Linked DNA regions of Homo sapiens: region 1 is linked to region 2. Evidence: fine-mapped expression QTL. Tissue or cell type: whole blood. Region 2 holds a variant in brackets; the other region holds the start of a gene. All regions are shown on one strand. Distances are from middle to middle.

Region 1 (2,767 bases), 31 kb before region 2:
CCAGCCTGGGCAACAAGAGTGAAACTCCATCACAAAAAAAAAAAAAAAAAAAAAGAAGAGAGAGAATGATAGGAGCGTGAAAAAGAAAAGCCTTCTACTAGTGATTAAAGAAAGCTGCAGGTTTCAAGAATTCATTTGTAGCATTTTAAAGATACATTAAGCCCATTCCTACTTTCCACATTCATATCATCCTGTTTTGTTTTCTTCAAACCAATTATCATTGTAAAACATTAGTTTGTTAGTTTCCTTATTTGTTTCCTATTGTTGCCTTGAAGTAGAGTGACCATACCAACCAATTTGCTCAGAAGTTCCCAGTGTATGCCTGCCATCTGGCATAATTTTACTCTGAAGTATGTTCTGGTTTGAGCAATATATTGTAAGGATGTTTTACACATAACCCACCAAGAAATTAACTTAGCTTTTAAAAAATAATTTTTCACTTTTTTTTTTTTCTTTTTGGAGACGGGGTCTCCCTATGTTGCCTAAGCTGGCTGGCTGAGAGCTCCTGGGCTCAAGCGATCCTCCCACCTCAGCCTCCCAAGTAGCTGCAACTACAGTCATGCGCCACTACCCCTGGTTAATTCTTTACTTGTTTTATACTAATACGGACATGGTTTTAAACAATCCTTAATTCAAGTAATGACGAATGCATACTGCTACCCCTTTTCTACTTCCCTTCCTTTTTTAGAATTTAAACTTTAAGACTCAGCCTATACTTTTTACAGATATCACTTGATTTTTAAAAAAATATTATTTATGCTTTATTCACTAATACACTCCCAGCCACACAGCCAAACTAGCTGCTTCGTATACTGGGAAAGCAATTCCCAACTGCCACCCTGACATATTCAACTATAAAGTCCCCAGAAACAGGACATAGATTTTAGAAGGAAGGCTGCTCTAAGAAGTTAGAATTGATGACTGAACAACTGTATGTACTTAGTGGGCAATAAATTAAACAACTCGTTTGGCTCAAAGGCCTTCAGCAAATAGCCCTTCAGCTAGTAAAATAACTGCTGGGTTCTGCTGAGTGATTTTCTAAGAATATCATAAACAAGGAGCAACTTGGCATGACCAGTCATAATGGAATGTGCTTACTGAACAACCCAGGCATAATTTGGTTCTGAAGAACAAAAGAACCATAAACCAATCTCATCCTGGCACCCACCCTAAATGATCTCTGGGCATGTACCTTTCAGATCTCCGTTCCCATCCTTGTTACTGTCCTTGAAAGACCTTGGGTAGATCTGGTACATGGGCCCCTCCTGCCACCAGTCTAGGCACTTTGGAGAGAGGGCAATGATGGCTATGGTGGCCGCGATGAGCACCAGCACAGAAGCCACTGTGAGCCAGAAGAGGATCTCCCGAGGTATGCGGTAGCGGGCCTGGCCAGAGAACTGGAACAGCACCTCCTTGGGCATCCCCGCATAGGGCTGGACGCCCTTGAAGTCGGGCTCCTGGGAGCCAAGGATGCCCCTGGTGCTGTGCTTCAGGTTGTCTGTTGAGCTTCCTGGATCCGGGGTCTGCTCCAGAATGTCTTCATTATGGACAAACCCGTTGTTTGTCTGGCATCCCTTCATACTCATCTCGATGGAGTCTCTCTTGCTTTTATCTTCAGCCATGTCTCACCGACTTATGTCTTCGGAGTGCCTTCCTGCAGTAAGGGAGGTGGAAGAGTGGCTTGCTGAATGCTTGGTCTTGTTAATGAACTTTGTGTGGTTTATAAATAAACCTAGCTGGACAAAGTCCAGCCAAGGAAGAAAGGGTAAAAGTACAGAGGTTTAAAAAAAAAATCTCGGGACTGGCGCGGTGGTTCATGCCTGTAATCCCAGCACTTTGGGAGGCCGAGGCGGGCAGATCACCAAGGGCAGGAGTTTGAGACTAGCCTGGCCAACATGGCCAAACCCCGTCTCTACTAAAGGTATAAAAATTAGCCAGGCGTGGTGGTGTGCACCTGTAATCCCAGCTGCTCGGGAGGCTGAGGCAGGAGAATCGTTTGACCCCGGAAGACAGACGTTGCAGTGAGCCGAGATCGTACCACTGCACTCCAGCCTGGGCGACAAGAGCGAGAATCCATCCCACAAAAAAAAAAAAAATCTCCACTGGGCATCTTGGCTCACACCTGTAATCCCAGCAGTTTGGGAGGCTGAGGCAGGCAGGTCACCCGAGGTCAAGAGTTTAAGACCAGCCTGGCCAACATGGTGAAACCCCGTCTCTACTAAAAATACAAAAATTAGCCGGGCGTGGTGGTGCATGCCTGTAATCCCAGCTACTCAGGAGGCTGAGGCAGGAGAATCACTTGAACCCAGGAGGCAGAGGTTGCAGTGAGCTGACATCGAGCCATGGCACTCCACCCTGGGTGACAGAGGGAGACTCTGTCTCAAAAAATAAAATAAATAAATAAGAAAGAAAATAAAAATAAAATGAAACTAAAAATAAATTAAAAAATTAAAAATTGGAAACAACCCAGGTAGCTATCATCAGATGGATAGATAAACAATGTGGTTATACATATAGTGAAATATTATTCAGCTTTGAAAAGGAATGAAGGCTGGGCATGGTGGATCACGCCTGTAATCCCAACACTTTGGGAGGACAAGGCGGGTGGATCACTTGAGGTCAGGAATTGGAGACCAGCCTGGCCAACATGGCAAAACCCATCTCTATTAAAAATACAAAAATTAGGCCAGGCGCGGTGGCTCACGCCTGTAATCTCAATACTTTAGGAGGCCGAGGCCAGTGAATCACCTGAGGTTGGGAGTTCAAG
Region 2 (2,767 bases):
CACCAGCTCCAAAGGAATGGAGTCAGCGTGCTGAAGGAAGGAAGCTCAAGGTTTCATTTCCATAGGCAGAGACAGGAGTTTTTGGCAGGATTGCAACATTTTTCATACAAGGTTGGCACATAGTTACAGCAATTTGGTTACAGGCAGTGTTTCTCTTGGGAAAGGTACACTGAACACCTTTTACAGAGGGTGTAGTCATGGGTTTTCTGTCATCTGATCTAAGTGAAGCAGGACAACAAAGGAGAAGTTAATCTATAACAAAGGTCATTAATTAAGAAGGCAGGTGGTTTTTGTACCTGATGTAGTTTTATTCTCTCTAGTCATTGTACAGAACAGGAAGAATAATCAGGGAAATAAAAAGTTGTTAGCATATGTGACTCAGATCAACTACATCTCTCTCAAGGCTTAGTGTTTTTTGTGGGTTCCAGGAGCTTTTAAATACTTATTTTCATAGCCCCGAGGGTTAATAAGACAACTGAGGAGAAGAAGCAGAGATGCAACACGACAGGCAGAGCTGATCAAAGATGGAAATGAACTCATTCCTGACACTCACACTAGAGGCTGCTGAAAGATCATCTGGCATTCAGGGTTTTCTCAGCTTTGAGATTTTATAACTATATAGTTAGAGATCTGCCCAGCTATAAAATGTATTACTCTATCTTTGAAGCACACACAAATGACAAATCTTCAGAACTACTGTTAAAACTTCTGGGGACACAAAACCACAAATCATTCAAAGAGTTTGCTTTATTGGCTGTTCTCAAATGGGCAAGCAGCTGTGTGTGTGTGTTTTTGGTGTGAAAGCGCCTAGAAAATGTAGTTTATTTTGGCATATTTTTTCTAGTGTTAAAGCAATCAGCATGGATACGTAAATTGTTGATAGTGAAAGACATTTCATTAGTTTAGTATTGTACACTGTTACACCGCTATAGGAAAAATTCTGTCTCAACTGCCAGATTCACGTGTCCCGCCCTAAAAAAGCCAAAAGCCCTAAAAATACATGTGTATATGTATATATATACACATAGATACACACACACACACTATATATGTGTGTGTGTGTGTATATATATATATATATATCTCAAGTAATTATACACTTCTAAATATAGATACTGGAAGTCACTAAAGTAAAAAAAAAAAAAGGTCTAATATATAAGAGTTATTCAGATTTGTATTCGCGTAGAACAAGCCAGTTCCTTTCATATTAACTATGCACACCACCTCCTTTCAGAAGAGATCTGGGAATGATAAAAACCAGTCGGAAGACGGTCTTAACCGTTTAGAAATCCAGTAACTTCCGATTTAAATGGTGCTTTTAGGAGAAGGAAAACAACGCCAGATTAAAGCCTGCCTTTAACCATAAGAGTCCCTGGAATCAAACCAAAAGTGCTGCCAAGAAGCCACAGGTGTTTATCACATGGACAGGAAAAAATATGATTTTGAAGGGCACAGTGACAGTCCTTCTCTGTCTCCACTAATGGGTTATAAGATTAAAGGTTAACAGCAGTACAAATACTATAATTATATAATGCTGGGTTTATTTTTCGTTCGGGTTTACAAAAAAACCTTTTTGTCCGCGTGCTTCTGAGTGCTTGGAAGGTCTGCCAGCCACTGCCTTTCTTGTCACCAG[A/C]GCTCTCAGCAGGTTTACAGATGGACGTGCCCAAGACTGCCATCTGGTGGATATGATAGAAATTGAAATATATATATATATATGGTTTTTTTTTTTCTTGCAGGATTGGGGTTGGTAAGTAAATAAAACTAGTTGTCTAAGAAGGTATACATTTAAAATATACTGAGGAGGGGGGTTCACTCATCACAGCAATAAGAAATATAAAATAACAAGGAATTAATTTAAGAACGGTGTAGATCATATGGAGAAAATTACAAAACTGTACTGGGGACATTAAAAACACTTGTATAAATAGAAAGATGTAGCATCTTCCTGGTGGAACTCACCTTGGCTAAAGATACCAATGACCCCTACATTAATCTACACATACAACAATTCAATCAACACATTAATGAGATTTTTATTTGGCAGGGATATCTTGGCCAAGTTATTGAAAAATTCATCTGGAAAAATAAACACATTCAATTTTTGTAAATGTAGAATAATAAGGGGCATTTTCCCTATCAGATAATAAAATGTATAGTAAAACTATGATAATTAAGATGACATGGTACTGACACACAACACAAAACGATAAAATAGAATGCTTATAAAAATACAAGCATATACATGAATATGTCATAAAGGACAACTTCAAATAATGAGAAAAGATTGGCTTATGTAACAGCTGGTATAAAGGGATAATGGAAAAATCTATAGGAAAATGTTATATTAGATTTTTACCTCAGAAATAAGTTCCAGTTGTATTAAAGTACAAATATTCAAAAGGCCAATGTCTTAAAATATATGTAAATATTTACTTAGGATATAAAAAATTGTCTTTGTATGCAACTGAAGGTTGATGAAACTGTTAAAGAAAATTCTGAAAATTTTGAATGTAAAAGTATGACACTTGTTGAAACATATCAAATTTAACACAAAAGCTCTTTGTAGTTTACTGTATGTAAATTTTCAATTCTTTTAAAGTAAAATAAAACAAAATAAATCCTATTTGATTTAAAAGTGTATATGAAGGGTAAAAGGGAATATTTTTGACCAAGGAGAGCTCTCTTATACTCTTCAGCTCTGAGCATCTTAGCCCTCTCTCTAGTACCGCTCCAATCATAGTGAGTAGAAAGCCCTTATTCTGCCTGT

Evidence for each region. PIP is the estimated chance that this variant, and not a neighbour inherited with it, causes the effect.
Region 1: SLC3A1 starts here. The variant in region 2 is fine-mapped to the expression of SLC3A1 in whole blood (TOPMed, PIP 0.95).

Annotation. Positions count from the first base shown.
Region 1 is chr2:44,274,391-44,277,157 of GRCh38, reverse strand. SLC3A1 (solute carrier family 3 member 1) reads right to left here and starts at 1,678. Exons shown (of 10, transcript NM_000341.4): 1 at 1,193-1,678. The coding sequence starts at 1,622.
Region 2 is chr2:44,243,137-44,245,903 of GRCh38, reverse strand. It overlaps a transcript of PPM1B not described here. Among named protein-coding and RNA genes, the nearest start is that of SLC3A1, 31 kb to the left of the region's middle. The variant A/C (reference allele first, on the strand shown) is at 1,634.